2 separate regions of the Homo sapiens genome follow, and region 2 is linked to region 1. The links come from fine-mapping of genetic effects on gene expression. A gene starts in region 1. The other region holds a variant in brackets. All regions are shown on one strand. Distances are from middle to middle. Region 1 holds the start of LPAR4 (lysophosphatidic acid receptor 4). Region 2 has its middle 16 kb from the start of RTL3.

Evidence for each region. PIP is the estimated chance that this variant, and not a neighbour inherited with it, causes the effect.
Region 2: its variant is the best candidate, but not a certain one, in a credible set for the expression of LPAR4 in tibial artery (GTEx, PIP 0.60).

The regions. Positions count from the first base shown.
Region 1 is chrX:78,744,949-78,749,948 of GRCh38, forward strand. It overlaps LPAR4 (lysophosphatidic acid receptor 4), which reads left to right and starts at 2,772. Exons shown (of 5, transcript NM_001278000.3): 1 at 2,772-3,086.
Region 2 is chrX:78,641,003-78,646,541 of GRCh38, forward strand. No RefSeq gene overlaps it. Among named protein-coding and RNA genes, the nearest start is that of RTL3, 16 kb to the right of the region's middle. The variant A/C (reference allele first, on the strand shown) is at 2,742.

The sequences.
Region 1 (5,000 bases):
TTACAAATGTTAGAGCAAGCAAAACTATAAGGTTTGCAGCAATAAGTGAGTTAAAGGAAAAAGGGGATGGTAGTGGATAAGCCTTAGTACTTTCTTGTTAATGGGATTTTTTTTTCTTTATTTGTGTGTATTCTTTGGCCTAAAATAATATCTTGGTGTAAATTTGTGCAAAAATGGGCAAAATGATGCATGTTTTCAGCTGATAAGTAAAAAAAGTCTAGTTGTTGCTTTGGTTGGGTAAAACAGAAGGTCAGGGAGAATAATTTTTTGCAAACACCACTATCCTTTTTGGATTAAGCAGATATTAATCCTATCCTCTTGGAGTTTACAGTTGGGAGAAATCAATGTTAATAAAATTGTCACACAAACAAATTACACAACGGTATGTAAAATTATACCAGTAAAAAATGCAATACATGAAAGGTCCATGATGCTATAGGACATATAGTATGTGGATATGACCTAAATGAGGGGTTAAGGAAGGATTCCCTGAAGGCGTGATTATTGGGATAGGATTTGAAGGGAGAATAAGGATTAAACTGGTGAAAGGAAGATTAGAGAGGGAGGAGAGTGTTCCAGGCAGAGGAAATAGCACTTAGAAATATCCATGGCATGAGTGATCCTATCTCATTCTAGGGGCTGGAAGAGGATCAATGAGGCTGAAACTCAGAAGGGAGGAAGACTGATGCTAAAAGAGCACGTGACCCAGTGACATTGTAAAAGATCTGCTACATTGGTGAGATTAATCAGCAAAGTACTTGTGTCCTTGAGGGAGAAATGAAGACAGAAGAATTGGAAAACTTATGGCTATTAATTTGAAGAGGAGAAAGGTAGTGAGCTGATCATATAGACAGACAGTGATCATGACTATAGGTTAACCCTTCAATCACTATAGTGCATTGAGTTGCTACAGTAAAGTACTCCTCTCAAAAGCTTTTCTCCTTACCCTTATTTTCCCTTTACAAACTGGTCTCCTTCTCACCTACTCTCACTTTACATCTTCTGCATTTGATCACTTTGCTCTGCCCACCTAGAAATATATCCCCTTCCATTCTTGGTTTATTTAATACTGAATCATCCACCAAAATGTGGCACAAATCCCACTTCTTCTAAGAAACCCTCCTGGCCCTATCCATGGGACTTCATCTCCATCCTCTGATCTATTACAGAACTCAATCTCCATATAACTGCCTTGGTATTTTTTTTTTCAAAATTTACCTTTGGTATCCCACTTTTTTCATGTGTCTTTGTGTCCCTACCTAGACTCTGGCATACTGCAGGGTAGAGACTGTATCTTTCGCCTGTGGACTGACAAATGCACCGAGTACTGGTCTAGGATGAGAGTTGGTAAAAGACCATTTATAAAGACACAGACAATGTCAGCAACTGACAGAAATAGACATATTTGAGATAAGCAGAGAGGGGAATAAAAAGAACAGAGATGGGCGGTGGGATGGAGAAGAGGAAGCAACAGAGAAAGTGTTTTTTTAGAGCCAGTTACAAGTAATAAGGCTAGTGTCAGCTTCACACTAACTTGTTTACTGGCCTCCACTGATAGTGAGAAGAGCCACAATAGAGCTGAACAAATAGGGAGAATAAACAAGCTTGAAACATGCCCTACTTGGGAGGCAGCTTAATTACACAAACTGAAGTTCTGAAGCAAATAGAGGATCCTCCAAGACTCCAGGGGCTCTGCTCTGCCAAGAGAAAGAAAGCACCTTATCCCTGGGCAGAGAATTTCATTCCAGAGGAGGGGGAGGGGCTGCTGTTGGTGGCTTTTGCAGTGGGTGGAGATAGAGTAGAGAAGGCTTGCAGGGGTGGGCTGGCAGAGGGGAAGGGCCAACAATGAAGTTACAGATGGATGAGTGGGTTTCTGCCACAAAATCAGATCAAGGAGAGGGAGGTGAAGAGGAAAATATAGGGAGGAAAAAAAAAAAGAATTGTGAGTGACCAAGGCAGTAAACCTGTAGATAATTAGAAAAGAAAATCTTGCCATGGGGGAGGTGGGCGGAGGTATACAGTTGCAGATAACTCTCTATTGTAAATAGATTGCATCTGTGCTATTTATTTTGTATTTTAGCAAATCTCTGAAATTTTCATGGTAATTAGACTTACTGCGAGGCAGTTACTTGAGAAGTGTAGACCCTCCTTTTGCTACAGAACACTCCCTAGTCCTTGGAAGGTGGGTGTCAGAGCTCTGGGACCCTAGTACATCTCTATCTGAGGGCACTTATCTGGCTTAAGTGAGTGTAGTATTAAAATTTACTTTATATTTTTGTGATGGTGGGAGATTGAATTTTGCACAGTGTGATAGGAATATTTTTATGGTACCTTTCATTTTTGCCTTTTCCTTGCCCCCTACTTATTATTATCAATATTGTTGTAATTATTTTAAACAAGTAGGAGCGAACATGGTATGCATAATTGAAACACTCCTCCTTGTTTGAAATGTTGTCTCCTCCTCTGCAGTCCTGCGGCAAAGACAGGCACACAGGCTTTCTCTGTGGATTAATTGGTCAGGAAAGACACTTTTTATATTGTCAAGTGGCACTTAAGCCATTAATTCTTGACTGTGAAACTGCTTTTCCTGGGCAATGCTCTTTAAGGAAAAACTTATTCAGTCCAGTGACTGGTGACTAAGGGAACGATGGAGCACAGGGAATTGGGCGGGATCTAGACTCCTAATAATGCCTCCTTAGCCAATGAAAAGCATTTCCTATTGAGACCCCCAAGAGTTCCCCTGGCCGTCGGCTCCAGCTCGGACTTCAGGCCTTTTTGTGTCCTGTTTGCTAAAGGCATGCGGGCTACAGCATTCAAGAGAGGGAGTCGTTAACAAAGGGAAAGAGATAAATGTAAATAAGCTCACATTTACAGAATGAGCGGTTTGCAGTAAAAAGCTGCGGCAGCCCAGAGTCTGCTACTTTAGGCTGGGCTAACCTTTCCCTGTAAAAAAAAAAAAAAAAAAAAAAAAAAAAAAATGGATAAAAATATGCACTTCCAAAGGGCGAGTTGCCCATTTACATGTTTATTAGCTAATTATCTACAGGCATCAGCACATTCTCTCATCTAGCACACTCTTTCTTGGGGTAAGTTTCTCTTTTAAAAAGATTTGATTTTGGCGTTTGGGGGTGGGGGATAGCATAACAAACTACAGTGGAAACACTGATGCTTTGAGAGTGTAAGGAAAGAAGTTAGACTTCAACTCTGAAGTACTGAACAAGGATCTTCGTGATGAATGGTAAAAAACGAGAATTTCCATTGTTTTGGCAATAATATTGTTTCCGTGGAAGACATACAGGATTTTCAGGCTGCTGTTTCATGTAAACACAGTTGTTCTAAAGAGCTAATTTAAAATCACAGTGTAGAACAATTTAGAAAGTATGTCGACTAGCTTTGTATTTCTTTGGTTTACAGTTTATTGTGCGCTAACGTGGCTTGTATTATGATGAGGTTTCTTCTAGTAAAACTATACATGACATGTCTTTGATGCTTAATTGATTTATGGAGAATGTGACATTTGCTATATTGAATAATTCATGAACTTGCCCATAAAGGAAGAATCATGTTTGAATGAAAAACTCTGTCATAAACTGAATTTGCAATTATATGTGAAATTAATTGCTGTTTGCCATACAAATGCATCAATGTGTCATCTTTAAACTCTCTTCTTGTAAATTTTAAATATTTTCAGTAAAAAGGTCTTATTGAGTTGCTAAATACAGTATTTCAGTTACCTTTTAAAAGGAAATTCAGCAATGTAATTTATCATTATTTCAGTGTGGAAAAGACCAGACAAATTCAAAGGTTAGAATATTTCAGAGCTTGGTGGGGTTATTCACTTTGCTACCTTACAAAATTATACCATCTTTCTTTATCTTGACTAACATAAAGACAATAATAATAACCTGAGATCCAGATTACCCAATGGCTTTGCAACACGTTTATTTTTCAGAACAAAATTCCCAACATCATATCCCATCAACATAGATTATAAAACCTTTTGCCTTGTCACAGATGAAAAGTTGCACTCTTGCCAAGAAGGATGAGTTCACCTGATAAACTTGATGGCATCTACATTCTAAAGTCTCTCCTGCCAATCAGAGATGGGAATGAAAGCCTTATTGGAACAATCAGGCCAGTCTTTCAGAATGTGTGCTCTCTGCAAGTTAAAGGGAGAACCAGGAAGATGCCTCACAGAAACATTCAGGCCAAGCTTAGCTAAAGCTTGATCTATTCAATTGCCTTTTGGGAAAATGCAGTGAGAATTGTTGCCCTTGCTGTGGTTTGTTCAGCGCCTAATTGTGTAGCTACCTTTTGTCTGTGTATATGGTCATCACATATAGTCTGCCCTTGGCCTTCTTGTTGGGGGAAGAACAAAACCTGTAATGTGTTTGCGAATATTAGTACTGAAAATTGGGAGCCCAATAAAAGGTTACCTACCACTGGGAATCCACCTTTACTTTAAGCGGATAAATAATCAGTTATCAGAACAATGTAACGGGTAAATGATCTAATGATTCTACATGGTTATGTCCTGAAATATGCCGATAACCTCATATTCTGAGGGGTGAAGTGACCAGGAAACAGGTGGGAAGGGTTGAGGGTTGAGACCTAAACAATTAGAGGTGATATGCCTGCTGAAATGAGCACAAGGACAGAGGATGAGGAAAATAAGGGAATTTGGAAGACTTTAGGATATTAGTGGCATCTTTCTCTGTGATTCTTAGCTTCCGGTATTAATTAATACTATTTATTTCTAATATTCAAATAAATCTAGCAATCATTTCATTAAGTCTAATAAAAATTAATGACCCTCCTTGCTTGCAGACTTTGAGGAAATAAAAAATGTTTTACAGTGGCCAATGTAAGCAGGTGAAAATAAATGATGGAAAAGAACAGCCAGTAAGGCCACCAGCATGGCACTCATTGAAGGTTGCTTTTCTGTCAGTCAAGACTGAAGATTAAAGGAGAAGAGAAACTGAGACTCAGAAATGGACTGT
Region 2 (5,539 bases), 100 kb before region 1:
TTCTTCTTTTTCAAAATGATTTTGGCTCTTCTGGCTCCCTTGCATTTCCATATACATTTTAGAATAAGTTTGTTAATTTCTGCAAAGAAGACATCTGGGATCCTTTTATTATATAAGACTGTGTTGAACTTATCGATCAATTTGGAGAATATTTTCATCTTAACAATATTAAGTGCTGTGATCTATGTATGTTGTATGTCTTTTTATTTATTTCAGCATTTTAAAATATCTTTCAACCATGGTTTGTAGTTTTCAGCATACAGATCTTGCATTTATTTCATTAAATTTATTCCTAGATATTTTTCCTGCTATTACATATATAAGAACATTTTCTTAATTTTAGAAATATTTATTGCCAGTGTGTAAAATTATAGCTGATTTTTTATATTGACTATGTATCCTCCAACCTTGTTGAGCTCATTTATTAATTCTAATACATTTATTGCATTCCATAGGATTTTCTATATACAAAAGTTCATGTCATCTAGAGCCAGTTTTACTTCTTCCTTTCTAATATTGATGCTTTTATTTTATTTTCTTATCTCATTTCTCTTTCTCAAACCTCCACTACGATGTTGAATAGAAGTGATGAGAGAAAATATTGTTGTTTGCTGCCTGTTCTTAGAGGGAAATCATTTAGTTTTTCACCATTAAGTGTGATGATTACTGTGGAATTTTTATAGATGCCTTTTATAATCTTGATGACGTTCCCTTGTAGTTTTTAGTATGTTGGCTGTTTTATCATTAAAAGTTGCTGGATTTTGTCAAATACTAATTCTTTATCTACTGAGAGAACTATGCAGTGTTTGTTCTTTATTCTATTAGTATAATGTATCATGTTTATTGATTTTCAGCTGTTGAAATGGTCCTGCCTTCCTGGGATAAGTCTCACTAAATTGTGTAGCATAATCCTTTTTATATGTTGCTGGATTAGGGTTACTAGTATTTTATTGAAAATTTTTGCATCTATATTGATAAGGGATATTAGTCTATAGTTTTCTTTTTATATGTTCATGTGGTTTGGATATGAGTTTAAGACTGTCATAAAATGAGTTGAACAGTGCTGCCTTTTCTCTAACTTTTTAAAAGACTTTTTGTAGAATGGCCTTAATTCTTCTTTAAATGTTTGGGTAGAATTCAGCAGTGGAGTCATCTGGTACTTGGCTTTCCTTTGTGGTAAGTTTTAAAATTCACAATTCAACCTCTCTGCTTATTATAGTAGAAATCTATTCAGATTTTTAATATCTTCTTGAATCTGTTCCAGTAGTTTATGTCTTTCTAGGAATTTGTGCTTTTCATCTAGGTTATCTAATCATTGGCATGCAATTTTTCATTCTCCTACAATACTTTTTATTGCTATAAAGTCAATAGTAATGCCCCCTTTCATTCCAGATTTTAATTATTTGAGTGTTCTTTTTTCTTGTTCAGTCTATTTAAAAGATCACTAATTTGATCTTTTCAAATAACCAAATTTTGGATTTATTAATTTTCTCTATTGTTTTTCTGTTCTGTGTTAATTAATTTCTGCTCTAATTGTTGTGTCCTTCCTTCTGCCTGGTAGAGTTTAGTTTGTATTAAAATAATACAAGCTTTTAAAAATAATATAAGCTATCCCAGCCATAAATTTCTCTCTAATGACTATTTTTGTTGCATCTCTTAAGTTTTGTTACGATATGTATTACATTTTCTTCACCTGAAAGAGTTTTTTAATTTCCCTCTTGATTTCTTCTTGATGCATTGATTATTTAGGAGAATGTTGTTTAATTTCCACATGTTTATGAAATTTCCTAATATTCTTCTCTTATTGATTTCTAATTTCATTTTATTATGGCCAGAAAACACATGAATTATGATTTCAATATTTTTAAATTTATTGTTTCATATTTTATGATGTAGCATATGGTTTATTCTGGAGAATGTTCTATGTTTGCTTGAAGAATGTGTATTCTATTGTTGTTGGATGTAGTATAGTTGCCTTTTATGTCTAATTGGCAGTTCATGTTGTGTGGCATGTCTTTAAATTGCATTTTTTGACAATGCTTTTTATTTCTCTTAAAAAACTAATAAATCAGTTTATAAAACCTTTTAAGAAAGGCAGAAGAGGAAACAAATGGCGGGTAGGAGGCAGGACTAACTTGTAGCTCCCACTCAGACAAATCCAGTAGCATGTGGAGACTCACATTGTGAACTTTGCTCCAAGAACTACTGCAGGAAATACCAGGAAAGCTGAGGGAATCCACAGACCCTTTGAAGGAGGTGGATTGCTGCTGCAGGCTCTGTGGGACAGCTGAGGAACTGTGAGTCTGCTTGCTTTCTCAGCTGGAAGGCTTGTAGCCTGGAGCAAGTTCTCAGCCCTGCTCACCAGCAGCCTGGAAATAAACTCAGTTTACTGGTGGGGGTGGGCATGGTGGGAGTGAGAGTGGCCTTTCAGACTGTGGGCTGCATGGGAGCTGGATGAGGCCTGTGGCTGCTAGCTTTCCCCCACTTCCCTGGTGACCTGTGTGACACAGCAGAGGCAGCCATAGTCCCCCTGGGAACACAACTCCATTAGCCTGGGAGCCACACTCCCATCCCCCACAGCAGCCACAGCAAGCCCCACCCAGGGAGAATCTGAGCTCAGACATGCCTAACCTTCCCATACCTGATTGTCTTACTCTTCCTACCTGGTAGCTGAAGACAAAGGACATAATCTTTTGGAAGCTCTATGGCCTGCCCACCACCTGGTACCTATACTACCATAG[A/C]TCATGCACTCTTGAAAGTGCCACATCCTGGCTAGAGGCCAACCAATATAAAACCAGTGCACTTAATAAAAATACAACCAAAGACCCTCACAGAGTCACTTCACTCCCTTGCTACCTCCACTGGAGCGGGTGTTGGTATCCATGGCTGAAAGACCTGAAGACAGATCACATCTCAGGACCCTTTAAAGACACTCCCCAGTACCAGCCCAGAACCTGGTAGCCCCACTGGGTGCCTAGATCAAGAAAAGAATAATAATCACTACAGTGTGGCTCTTAGGAAGCCACACTGTAGTGAGGAGAGAGCCACATCAAGGGAAAAGAGGAGAGAACCACATCAAGGGAGCACCCTGTGGGACAAAATAACCTGAACATCAGCCCTTGAGCACTAGATCTTTCCTTTGACATAGTCTACCCAAATGAGAAGGAAACAGAAAAAGATTTCTGGTAATTGTGGTAATGTGATGACAAAATAAGGTTCTTTAACACCCTCAAAAAAATCACACTAGCTTACCAGCAATTGATCGAAACTAAGACGAAATCCCTGAATTGCCAGAAAAGGAGTTCAGAAGGTCAATTATGCTAATCAAGGAGGCACCAGAGAAAGGTAAAGTTCAATTGAAAGAAATAAAAAAAGGATACAGGATATGAATGGAGAAATCTCCAGTGAAATAGATAAATAAAAAACAATTACAACTTCTCGAAATGAAGGACACACTTAGAGAAATGCAAAATGCACTGGAAGGTCTGAACAATAGAATTGAACAAGTAGAAGAAAGAACTTCAGAGCTCAAAAACAAGGCTTTTGAATTAACCCAATCCAACAAAGACAAAGAAAAAAGAATAAAAAATAAGTAAACAAAGCCTCCAAGAAGTTTGGGATTATGTTAAATGATCAAACCTGAGAATAATTGGTGTTCCCATGGAAGAAGAGAAATCTAAAAGTTTGGAAAACATATTTAAGGGAGTAATCAAGGAAAATTTCCCGAGCCTTGCTAGATATCTAGACATTCAAATATAAGAAGCTCAAAGAACGCCTGGAAAGTTTATCCCATAAAAGATCATCTCCTAGGCACATAGTCATCAGATTATCTAAAGCGAAGACAAAGAAAAGCGTCCTAAGAGCTGTGAGGCAAAAGTATCAAATAACCTATAAAAGAACACCTATTAGTTTATCAGTAGATTGCTCAGCACAAACCCTACAAGCAAGAAGGGATTTGGGTCCTACCTTTTGCCTCCTTAAAGAAAACAATAATCAGCCAATAATTTTGTATCCAGTGAAATAAAGCTTCATAAATGAAGGAAAGATAGTCTTTTTCAGAGAAATAAGTCCTGAGAGGATTTGCCACTTCCAAGCCAGTTCTACAAGAACTCCTAAAAGGAGCTCTAAAACTTGAAAAAAAATCCTCAAAATACACCAAAACAGAATCTTTTTAAAGCATAAATCTCACAGGACCTATAACACCACACACACACACACACAAAAAAAGGTACTCAGATAACAACTAGCACAATGAATAGAATAGTACCTCACATTTCAATACTAACATTGAATGTAAATGAACTAAATGCCCTACTTAAAAGATGCAGAATGGCATAATGGATAAGAATTCAGCAAATAAGTATCTGCTGTCTTCCTCACCTGACACATAAGGACTCATACAAACCTATATTAAGGGAGTGGAAAAAGATATTCTGTGAAAATGGACACCAAAAGCAAGCAGGAATAGCTATTCTTACATCAGACCAAAGAAACTTTAAAGCAACAGCAGTAATAAAAAACAAACAGGGATACTATATAATGATAAAAAGACTAGTCCAAGAGAAAAAATCACAATCGTGTGTGTGTGTGTGTGTGTGTGTGTGTGTGTGTGTGTATATATATGCACCTAACACTAGAACTCATAAATTTATCAAACAATTACTACTACACCTAAGAAATGAGATAGCAACACAATAATAATGGGGGGCTTCAATACTCCCCTGACAGCATTGGACAGGTCATCAAGACAGAAAGTCAACAAACAAACAATAGACTTAAATTATACCCTAGAACAAATGGACTCAAAAATATTTACAGAACATTCTACCCAACAACTGCAGAATATACATTCTATTCATTAACACATTGACCATTCTTCAAGATTGACCATATAATAGGTTATAAAACAAGTCTCAATAAATATAAGAAAATCAAAATTATGTCAAGTACTCTCTCAGATCACAATTGAATAAAATTGGAAATCAACTTCAAAAGTAACTCTCAAAATCATGCAAATACATGGAACTTAAATAATCTGCTCCTCAATGATTGTTGGGTCAACAATGAAATCAAGATGGAAATTAAAAAATTATTTGAACTGAACCATAATAGTGAAAAAGCTATTAAAACCTCTGGGATACAGCAAGGGCAGTGCTAAGAAGAAAGTTCATAGCATTAAATGTCTACATCAAAAAGTCGGAAAGAGCCCAAATAGACAATCTAAGGTCACACCTCAAGGAACTAGAGAAACAAGAACAAACAAACCCAAACCCAGCCAAAGAAAAGAAATAACAAAGATCAGAGCAGAACTAAATGAAATTGAACAAAAAAAAATACAAAAGATAAATGAAACAAAAGTTAGTTCTTTGAAAAGATAAAATTGAGACACCATTAGAGAGATTAACCAAGAAAAAAAGAGAGGATCCGAATAAACTCAATTAGAAATGAAACAGGTGATATTACAACCAATACCACAGAAATACAAAAGATCATTCAAGGCTACTATGACCACCTTTATGTGCATAAACCAGAAAACCTA